Regions from separate parts of the Homo sapiens genome. Here region 2 is linked to region 1. The links come from fine-mapping of genetic effects on gene expression. A gene starts in region 1. The other region holds a variant in brackets. All regions are shown on one strand. Distances are from middle to middle.

Region 1 (5,358 bases):
TATACATATTTAAATTTTTTTTTTTTTGAGACAGAGTCTTGCTCTGTTGCCCAGGCTGGAGTGCAGTGGTGCGAACTCTGTTCACTGAAACCTCCACCCCCTGGGTTCAAGCAATTCTTGTGCCTCAGCCTCCTGAGTAGCTGGGATTACAGGTGCCCCCCACCATGCCCGGCTAACTTTTGTATTTTTAGTAGAGATGGGGTTTCACCATGTTGGCCAGCCTGGTCTCAAACTCCTGACCTCGAGTGATCCGCCCGCCTCAGCCTCCCAAAGTGCTGGGGTTACAGGTAGGAGCCACCGCGCCTGTCAAGACTTTATTTGACAAGTGTCACCATTCCAGGACTGGCTGGGGTCATTCACAAGGAGGACTCGGGGAGGGATGAGCCCCAGAGCAAGTCCTTGGTTTAGTGTGGAAGATGGGGAGCTGCATTCCTGTAAACCCAAGACACAGCAGGTGAACAGTGGGTCAAGAGCAGCCAGGCCGGCATGGATTTCTGTAGCTTGGTCTCCGTGCTGCCTCAGTACACAGTCTCACGGGCCTCCTGCAGACTGTGGGGAGCTCTGGGTAAGGTCTGTGTGGAGACATCCCTGTTCCCACTCTGATTTCAGTTTCCCCAAGGCCTCCAGCATCTCCGGACATCTCCCTTACACACTCCTCAAGAAGTCTCCCTGGCTGCTCCAGCTGTCTGACCTCTGTTGGCCCGTCTCCTCCAGGGTTCTCTCTTTGCCTGCTGCAGGTCTGCCTCATCTGAGACCCTTCTCACCGGCCGGGAATGACCCCGTACCTACTCTCTGGCCTCCTCTGGGGGCCTTGCTCTTGGCGCTGGATCCCTGTGCTCTGTCCCCTGACCTTGGAGGAATTGCCCTCCTGCGTGTATGGAATGACCACAGGCCTCCCTCTCACTCTTGCTGCCCTCCGCTCCTCACACCTGCCCTGTGGCCTCAAGTTCAGGATTCAGTTTGTTGCCCAGGACAGAGTCTGGTTTTTCTCCAGAAATTAGATGCAGAATCAGGCCTAACCAGCTTCTCAAACTCACAGACTTGGTCAGCAAACATTCCCAAGCCTCAAAGGCTGAGACCCCTGGAGGAACGATGCCAGCAGAGACAAAACGACATTGAGAGGTAAGTCAATTAAAATGTTAAAAAACATCAGATTAGGCTGAGCGCAGTGGCTCGTGTGTGTAATTCCAGCACTTTGGGAGGCCGAGGCAGTTGGATCACTTGAAGTCAGGAGTTCGAGACCAGCCTGGCCAACATGGTGAATCCCCGTCTCTACTAAAAATACAAAAATTAGCCAGGCGTGGTGGCATGTGCCTGTAGTCCCAGCTACTCAGGAGGCTGAGGCAGGAGAATCGCTTGAACCCGGGAGGTGGAGGTTGCAGTGAGCCGAGATTGCACCATTGCACTCCAGCCTGAGTGATAAGAGTGAAACTCCGTCTCAAATTAAAAAAAAAAAACAAAAAAAAAACCAGATTGATAATTACATACAACTAGTGGCTTGTGAAAGCTACAAGATAGAAATGAAGTATCTCCTGACAATGGGCTCTGTCTGGCGTGCCCTTCCTATGTAAGTTCTAACTATTGTCCAGGCCTCATTCAGATGTCACATGTTTCAAGAAGGCTCCTCACCCATTCAGTCCCTTCCCAGGAGCAACCTGGGGCTAGGGGTCTAGTGTGGCAGCTCCTGTCTGCCAGGTATGAGTTGGTCCTGTCCTCTGTTCTACGACCTGGAACTCCCTGGGTCTCCTGCTTTTGGAGAGGGTACACAAATAGTGGCAAGGGCTGTGTGCACTGGAGACAGGCTTGACCTATTTATTACTTATGCGACCTTGTGGTGCCAAACAAGGAGGTGGTAACTACCTCACAGGACTTAAATGAGGAGATGTAAAGCACGCATTGTCAAGTGGGACTAAAATTGGCTGGGGGTAGGCTGGGCGCGGTGGCTCACGCCTGTCATCCCAGCACTTTGGGAGGCCGAGGTGAGCGCATCACCTGAGGTCAGGAGTTCGAGACCAGCCTGGCCAACATGGTGAATCCCCATCTCTACTAAAAATACAAAAATTAGCTGGGCATGGTGGCTCAGGCCTGTAGTCCCAGCTACTCGGAAGGCTGAGGTAGGAGAATCGCTTGAACCCCGGAGGCGGAGGTTGCAGTGAGCCGAGATCGCGCCACTGCACTCCAGCCTGGGTGACAGAGGCTGCAGACTCCATCTCAAAAAAAAAAAAAAAATTGGCTTGGGGTGGTAGTGAAGAAATCTAGCTATTACAATGGTTTGTGGCCACAGAAACAAATACACAGCGTACTAGTGGTATTAAATTTTATGGGAAGGGGGTAGGTAGGAATAACGAGGTTGAGAAACAAGGATATAAAGTGGTTACCTCTGTTGCTTAGGGCGCCTAGCGAGCTCTCACAAAACACAGTAATCCTCAATGTTACTGGAAGAGGCAGAGCTCAGGAGTCCTCCCTTCGCCCAGTGTGAAAACCCGGAGGGGAGGATGGGGTCTCGTGCTGCTCAGTCCCCCGGAGCCCCGCACTCCGCACGTCAACCGGCGCTCTCGCAAAGGTTCTCTCAGCGTCTCCAAAGCAATCTGCAAATTCCCCAACCGAGACCCAGGCGGCAACTGAGCAGAAGGTAAGGGGCTGGGAACGGCACCCACCCCGGCAGCCCGCTGCCCCTGCCTCGGCTGACCACCGCTCGGGCCCTTCCACCCGGGGGTTGTCCCGTGTCGCGAGGCCAGCACTGGTGGCGGGGAAAGGAGCCCGCCGCGGCTGAGGGCGCTGGACCCCCGGCAGGCTGCCCCGCTGACCTGCTGTGCCTCAAGGGGTCCGCCTGGGAAACAGGGGAGGCCGCGTCCGCTCTCACCTGAGCGCCCCCAGGCTCGAGGAACCGCCCTCACGGGACGCATGAGCCTCGCCAGGTGCCGGTCAGGAATGCACCGCGTTCCCCTGCCCGGCTAGACTTTGGGAGAGGCGGGTCCGCTGTCACCTGACCTCCGCCACCTGACTCGTGGGGCCGGATCTCGGCGAGATGAGCTCTGGGAGTTGTAGTTTCCGCGCGTCTTAGACGGACAGAGCGCAGCTGGGTCGGGCCGGGGCGCAGAGATCGGGGCTCCGGCGTGAGGGAAGATGAGGTCCGCTGCCAGGGACACAGAGACTCTTGGAGCCGCCAGCGCCTCCCGGCTCCTTTCGTGAGCGAAGCTCAGACCGCCCTCCATTGGGCGGAAATCAGAGCCCGTGGGGCGGGGCCCCCTTTAGGTCCCGCCTTCCGCCGCCTCTCCGCCTATAGCCGGGGCCCGCCGAGAGGTTGCGTGGAAGCTCGCCTTCCCCGGCCAGTGGGAAGACGAGAAGCCTCCATGTTGGGTGTGGCTGAAAGATTGGCAGGCGACTCCCCGCCCCTGCCCCGCCCCCCTGGGCGAAGAGCGCGGACTTGTGGGGCCGCTGGCTGCAGACTGGAGCTGCGCGGGTCAGGGAGATAATGGCTGCGCGGCCGATCACCCTCGGCATTGACCTGGGCACCACATCTGTGAAGGCAGCTCTGCTGAGGGCCGCGCCCGACGACCCATCCGGGTTCGCAGTGCTGGCGAGCTGTGCCCGTGCTGCGCGGGCAGAGGCGGCGGTCGAGAGCGCGGTGGCCGGGCCCCAGGTGAGTTGGACCCCCGGGGCCGCGCCGCCTCCAGGAGCCTCCTGACCACCCTTTTCCACCCCAGGAGGCCTCCCTGACAGCCCTTCCCGCAATGAAGTCTCTATTCCAGCTTGTCCCCAGCTTCTCCAGGGGCCCGTCTGCCTGCAGCAGCTGTGCTCATGATCCCTTAGGTCTGGTCCCAGAATCCTTCCCACCTGCTGGGACCGATTCCCCCCCGCCCCCTCCCCGACTCTCTGGCTTCTTCTGGGGGCCTTGCGCTTGGCGCTGGATCCCTGTGCTCTCTGTCCCCTGACCTTGGAGGAACTGATCTCTTGTGTGTATGGAATGACCACAGGCCTCCCTTTCACTCTTGCTGCTCTCCGCTCCTCACACCTGCCCTGTGACCTCAAGTTCAGGATTCAGTTTGTTGCCCAGGGCAGAGTCTGGGTTTTCCTCCGGAAATCAGATGTCAAATCAGGCCTAACTGGCTCCTGGCTCATTCCACAGAAGCAGAATGCGGACCAAGAAACCTTTGGTCAGCCGGGCGCGGTGGCTCACGCCTGTAATCCCAGCGCTTTGGGAGGCCGAGGCGGGCGGATCACGAGGTCAGGAGATCGAGACCATCCTGGCTAACACGGTGAAACCCCGTCTGTACTAAAAATACAAAAAATTAGCGGGGCGTGGTGGCGGGCGCCTGTAGTCCCAGCTACTCGGGAGGCTGAGGCAGGAGAATGGCGCGAACCCGGGAGGCGGAGCTTGCAGTGAGTCGAGATCGCTCCGTTGCACTCCAGCCTGGGTGACAGAGCGAGACTCCTTCCCTTCCTTCCCTTCCTTCCTTCCTTCCTTCCTTCCTTCCTTCCTTCCTTCCTTCCTTCCTTCATTCTTTCCTTTCTTTCTCTTTCTTACCAAGTCTCGCTCTGTTGCCCAGGCTGGAGTACAGTGGCGTGATCTGGGCTCACTGCAACCTCCGCCAACTGGATTCAAGTGATTCTCCTGCTTCAGCCTCCCGAGTAGCTGGGACTACAGGTGTGAGCCACCGCGCCCGGCTACTTTTTGTATTTTTAGTAGAGACAGGGTTTCGCCATGTTCGCCAGACTGGTCTTGAACTCCTGACCTCAAGTGATCTGCCCACTTCAGCCTCCCAAAGTGCTAGGATTACAGTTGTGAGTCACTGCGCCTGGCCCAGCTTTGTTTTTCACAAGCTCTTGCCACATACATGGACACGGTTGTTTAGGGTTCAGAGCCCATTTGGCTCAGAAGCATTTCTGAGGATAGGGATTTCAGGAGCACTTTGTATCTACATAGAAGCTTTCAAGATTAGTTTGGTTGGGACATTAGGGCATATTAAAAGGATTCTTACTTAAAGGACTATGAATTGGAGGCAAAGTTGGCTCTGACCCTGGTGGGGTGAGCAGGAGAGCTGGCATTAGGGGAGAGTAGGCTCAGAAAGTGCCAGTTTCTCCTGAAATAGAGCACTTCTTTTTTTTTTTTTTTTTTTTTTGAGACAGGGTCTCGCTCTGTCACCCAGGCTGGAGTGCAGTGGTGCAATCTCTGCTCACTGAAACCTCTGCCTCCCGGGTTCAAGTGATTTTCGTGCCTCAGTTTCCCGAGTAGCTGGGATTACAGGTGTGCGCCACCATGCTTGGAGAATTTTTTTGTATTTTTGGTAGAGATGGGGTTTCACCATGTTGGCAAGGCTGGTCTCAAACTCCTGACCTCAACTGATCTGCCTGCCT
Region 2 (5,358 bases), 25 kb before region 1:
GGAGCAGGAGGCGGCCATCAGCAGGGCCGGTGCATGGTGGTGCAGCAACTCTGCCCCGGCTCTCTCAGAACAGTCCTCACTGACCATATGTGCTGGGAGAGGCTGGGTGCAGGGACAGAGGGACGGCTGAGAATGTGCCATGCTGGCTTCCGCTGTGTGATAAGGGGCCAGTCCAGTGACCACAGGGCTTGACTTGGGCTGCCCCTTTCCAGGGTATTTATGTCACACGGGTGTCTGAAGGAGGCCCTGCTGAAATCGCTGGGCTGCAGATTGGAGACAAGATCATGCAGGTAACAGGTGTCCCAAAGGAGGAGAAACAAGGTTTGGGCAAGCAGGTCTGAAGCACTTGGGGGTGGGGAGCTGCCCCAGCCTCCCAGCTGGGAGAGACTCACTGCAGCCAATTGGGAACCCATACTGGCATTGCCCCAGAGGACGCTGGCTTTCTCTCCTGTGTGTCTCAGCCACAGTGCTTGGTGTCTCCCAGCCCTGGGATGTTAGGCTGGGGGCCTACTTGAATGACCTGGGCCCCCAAAGCCCTCTGCTTCCAGATCCCAGAGGGCGGGGAGCTGAGGTGAGCCTGTGTTCTCTCCTGGGGCCAGGTGAACGGCTGGGACATGACCATGGTCACACACGACCAGGCCCGCAAGCGGCTCACCAAGCGCTCGGAGGAGGTGGTGCGTCTGCTGGTGACGCGGCAGTCGCTGCAGAAGGCCGTGCAGCAGTCCATGCTGTCCTAGCAGCCACCACCATCTGCGACTCCTGCCTGCCGCCTCTCTGTACAGTAACGCCACTTCCACACTCTGTCCCCATCTGGCTTCTGCTGACCGCTGGGCCCCAGCTCAGAAGGGCTATAGCTGGTCCCAGAGGCCTGGCCTGGCCTTCCTTCCCTTCTCCCATCCCTGGCCTGGGGCCTCTGGGACCGGCTTTCTCTCCTGGACACCGAGGATTGGAAATAAGGGCCTGGAGCTGAGTAGTAGCCAGTCTGCTGTGACCACAGGCTCAGGTCCGACCCTGCTGCTTGGCCACAGCAGTGGCTGGGCAAGTGGGAACCACTATCTCTTGGGAGCCCCCAAAAGCTGGGAAATGCTGGAGGAACCAGGCCTTTCCCGCTTTTGCCTGGCTGCAGGGTTCGGCTCCGCCCCTGCCCCCCAGCCCTCGTGTGTCCACACCGCAGTGCCTCTGCCCCTCGGGGGACTGGACACACATCCTGCCAGAGGCGCTACGAAGCTTTGCCCAGATGAAGCCAGGTGGGCTCCGCGTTCACTCCCACTCTCCCGAGGGGTGCTGGCCTCCCCAGGGTTTGCCTTCTTACGGATTTAGACGAGGTTCGAGGCTCACCTATCAGGGCAGCTCTCAGGATTGTCATTTTCCTCTTTGCCTGTGGGTTTAACTTTTGTATTTTTTTAATCACAAGTTTGATACAAAATGTTTTTATCGTACTCTTTGGAGATGCCCATTCTACTTTTGAATTTAGCTTTTACTAATTCGCATCTGGAAGCTCAGCAAGTGCACAAGCCTTACTTTGGTTACCGTGGAAACCACTGCCGCCCCTCCCCGATGTGGTGCGCTCAATAAAAATGCTGGAATTCACAGGGGGCTTTGCTGAGGCATGGGCTGGGATATCGGGGTGGGGGTGGCGGTGGGATATTGGGGCCAGAGCTGTGGTTTTAATGATGGCCCCATCCCCCACTGTTCTGGGACAAAGCTCAACTACTCCCAGGCCCACCTGCCTGAAAGCCCGGGGCTGGTGGAGCCGCAGCAGCTGCACTGCGCCTGACCAGAACCACATCTGTGGGAGTGTCTGGGAGCACTGGGGTGGGACCCTGGGGTGCGTGTGCTTTCTTGGGTGTTACTGTGAAGCCCCTACTTGCTCCCAACCTCCTTTTTGCAACCTAGCCTCAGCTCCCACCTGGGAGGGGCCGTAGGGACACCCAGAGGTGCCTGGGAGAGACCCCTGCCTATAAGACTCCCTGCCTATAAGGGCACTCCGTGTATCCCAGCGAGGGACACAACCCCACGTGTTGCTGGGGGCCGTGATCTGGCCAGATGGGGGTGAGTCAGAGAGCACCTGACTACCTGCGTACCACCTCTGGGAAGGTGTTAGCACTCCTGGACCTACCTAGCACTGCCAAATCAGATTTTAAAGAAAAGTCAATAATTTTTTTTTTTTTTTGAGATGGAGTTTCGTTCTTGTTGCCCAGGCTGGAGTGCAATGGCGTGATCTTCGCTCACTGCAACCTCCGCCTCCTGGGTTCAAGTAATTCTCCTGCCTCAGCCAACCAAGTAGCTGGGATTACAGGTGCCCGCCACCATGCCCAGCTAATTTTTGTATCTTTAGTAGAGATGGGGTTTTGCAATGTTGGCTAGGCTGGTCTCGAACTCCTGATGTCAGGTGATCCATCTGCCTTGGCCTCCCAAAGTGCTGGGATTACAGGCGTGAGCCACCGCACTCAGCCGGAAAAGTCAATCATTTGAAATCTCTGATTTTTAAAGTAGGGCACCCAGTAACACATTTACTGGGTGTTGCAAGTGAAACAGGTCTGTGGACCCCGTCAGGCCAAAGTCTGCTCTGCAGAAACAAGACCTGACATTCTTTGACGTTTGTTACAACTAGATAGAGGAAGCGTCTGGAGAATAAGACCCCCACTGCCCCCGCTCCCAGTGCTGGTGTGCCCTTCAGAACCTCATCCACCCCGGCTCACATCCAGATTGAGTGGCGTGCCCTGGTAACCGTGAAGACACGGAGCCTGGGAGACTGACCTGGCCCTGGGCGGGTAGGCGTCTCGCGCTACCCAAGAGGGCTCCCCAGTGAAGTGTGGGGTCAGCACGCAGCGCTCTCGGGTCAGTGACCTTCACAACCTTATGCGCTTCCTTACACGAGGGGAGCAGGGCACCTGGCTCTGAAGGCCAGCACACCTGCCTTCTGTATCGAGCACACAGAGTGCAGAAAGGAAGCGAGTAGGTTTTAATTCAAGATACAGGCCCCTCGCGTTGATCTC[G/A]TAGAAGGAAACTCAGTGGACTGACAAGCTCAAGTCATGTATGAGGCACGTCCTGGGACCCCCACCCCTCCTGCCATAGGAAGGACAGCTTTGGGCAGAGGGAAGGAGGTTTGAGATCAGGGTTGGGCCCATACAGATTGTGTGAGGTGGTCTCAAGTACAAATACTTATCTGAGGCTCCTGAACAGGCCAGAAATTGGTGAGTCTCAAGTAGGTGTCTGGGGAAAGAGAGGGAAGGGGCCTGCCCTCGCTCCAGGGGAGCTGGTCGCCGTTTGGCAGGCCTAACAGACCTCTAAGGCACAGACTGGTAGCAGGAGAGAGCTATGTCCTGTACTCCAGATGCTGGGTAAGGAGCAGCTGGATGTGCTCAGATGGGGCTAATCTGAGAAGGTGGAGGTAGGAGAGAGGGCAGAAGAGAGTAAGCCACTTCCAAACGTCCCTCCAAAAAATCTGAAAGGAGTTACTATGCTAATGCGCTGGGCATGAATCCAATTCAGAACCAATCTGGTGGGCCCCTCATGGCTCAGAAATACTCTGGGTAGGGCTGGCTGTTACTGCAGTCACGGACGCTGAGTTATGTACAGAGAGTACGTCAGGAAAGTGGCCTTCAGAGAAAGAGCCCCATGGCCTAACCCCAAAGTCCTAGCCCGTCCACCAGCACCTCTGAGTTCACTGGCCACGGCACCGGGCTGCTTGATCTCTGGGAATGCAGCGGTGGCAGCAAAGTGCCCTTGGCTCACCCGGCTGCAAGGTCAGCCCTTCAAGCTGCTTGCAGAAACGCTGGTAGTTTGGGGCAAGGCCTTCGGCTGCAAGCTTGGTGCCCAGTCCTGCCTGAGACGGCTGCCAGAGCCTGTGCGCGCTGCCTGAAGCCTTAAAGAAAAGAGATGGCGGTGTCAAGGCGACGGTGCCACGTGCCTGGCCGGGGAGGCCCAGGAGGGGCCCGGACGAAGGCAGGCTATTGAATGGCCTCTGGCCCCAGGAGCAGAGTGGTCTCCTCTGTCCGCACACTGAGCCAGCCCTGTGTGCCAGGGCCCAACCGCTTCTCCGGCCTTCGCTGGGTGAGGCCTTCCCCAGCAGGGCACGAGGCCAGAGGCTGGGTACACTGGGTCCCTGGGTGCTAGTTCAGCTGGTCATACCCCGGTCTCTTTCTGTACAAACAGAAGTGCTGGATGAAGAAGACGACGTCGAAGACGATGGAGAAGACCCCGAGTCCAAACTTGGTTGGGTCTCCGAAGATCAGCGTCCACTGGTCTGTTAGCAGCCGGGGGACAGAAGCTGGTGTTAGGTTGGCAGCTCCTGAGGCAGCTGGAGCTTGTGGGGTGGTGGGCGGTGGGGGTCCCAGAAAACCACAAAGCCTCCAGCTACGAAGGCCCCTAGGTGGGTCTCTCCTTGGGGGCTGGATTGGCTTGGATCCCAGGTGGGGGTGGAGCCCTGGCTGGAAGGTCCCGGGAAGGCTGGCCCCGCCCGATGCCCCAGCCGCAGGGTGGCCAGCAGCCCGCTGGCTGACTCACCGTTGTTGTAGGACTGGAGGAACATCTGCAGGAGGCTGAAGCTGCCCCCGGTGAAGTCCAGGAGCACGTTGCCAATGCTCCAGCCCTCAGTGCTTTTGTAGTAAAAGTTCATGTAGGCCTGGGCCAGACAGACGGACAGACAGACGGAGGGCGGTGAGGGCTGGGCGGCTGCCTCATGCGCCTCGTGACTGCCCCTCCAAACAAAAGCGGTTCTCATTCCTCCCACTGGGGCCTTGGCTCCAAGGACACGGTGACCTTTGGGCTATGACAGGCCTCAGCCAAGGAACAGTTTGGGTGGTCCTGGGGGTAGGCGTCTCATCTGCATGTACAGCAAGCAAAGGCCCCGCACCCCCCACACCTCACAGCTCCAGCAGAGGCGGGGCCGATGCGGCCTTCCCCGTCTCCTCCACATCCCTGGGGCCAAGGCCCTGTGCTAGTTTCCCTGTAGCTATGATTCTTCTTCTCACCTCCAGGCAAGGCTGTCCCCAAACTCAGCCTGGACTTCATGTGCTTAGGGACTGGTGGGAGTGGGACTTCTGGTTTGGAATCCTGGCTCCATCACCGGAGCCTGCTGTCTTGGGCAAGTGACAGTTCTCCTAGCCTTGGTTTCCCCGTCTGTAGAGCGGGGTTAACGCCCCCCACAGGCCTGGCCGGGGCTTCCTGGGTCTGGTTGGGGGGGCGGGTCTGCGGGGATGCGCCCCAGTCTGACTGCCTGTGCCCCACGTCCTCCCATGCTGCAGAGCCCTGTGGGTCCTCTGACTGCTGTGACCTTTCCTTCCCCCCGTGAGGCAGGTCCTGGCCTCTCTGGTGGCCTCCCAGTGAGCCTCTAGTCAGTCCCTGTCTGTGTCC

Which allele goes with the higher level. Alleles are on the strand shown, and positions count from the first base shown. SD is a standard deviation of normalised expression in the study named.
As copies of A replace G in region 2, the expression in tibial artery of the gene that starts at base 2,935 in region 1 goes down (large effect, 0.78 SD a copy in GTEx).

Evidence for each region. PIP is the estimated chance that this variant, and not a neighbour inherited with it, causes the effect.
Region 2: its variant is fine-mapped to the expression of CTNS in tibial artery (GTEx, PIP 0.92).

The regions. Positions count from the first base shown.
Region 1 is chr17:3,634,337-3,639,694 of GRCh38, reverse strand. It overlaps CTNS (cystinosin, lysosomal cystine transporter), which reads right to left and starts at 2,935. Exons shown (of 12, transcript NM_004937.3): 1 at 2,864-2,935; 2 at 2,379-2,588. SHPK (sedoheptulokinase) reads left to right here and starts at 3,445. Exons shown (of 7, transcript NM_013276.4): 1 at 3,445-3,643. The coding sequence starts at 3,476. It overlaps LOC105371493 (a long non-coding RNA gene), which reads left to right. Exons shown (of 6, transcript XR_007065579.1): 6 at 610-1,198. RefSeq lists silencers at 2,570-2,659, 3,670-3,729 and enhancers at 2,940-3,189, 5,028-5,358.
Region 2 is chr17:3,659,127-3,664,484 of GRCh38, reverse strand. CTNS (cystinosin, lysosomal cystine transporter) reads right to left here. Exons shown (of 12, transcript NM_004937.3): 11 at 4,510-4,627; 12 at 1,382-4,249. The coding sequence ends at 4,116. TAX1BP3 (Tax1 binding protein 3) reads left to right here. Exons shown (of 4, transcript NM_014604.4): 3 at 213-290; 4 at 600-1,590. The coding sequence ends at 737. It overlaps P2RX5-TAX1BP3 (P2RX5-TAX1BP3 readthrough (NMD candidate)), which reads left to right. Exons shown (of 15, transcript NR_037928.1): 14 at 213-290; 15 at 600-1,592. Among named protein-coding and RNA genes, the nearest start is that of TAX1BP3, 6.8 kb to the left of the region's middle. The variant G/A (reference allele first, on the strand shown) is at 3,000.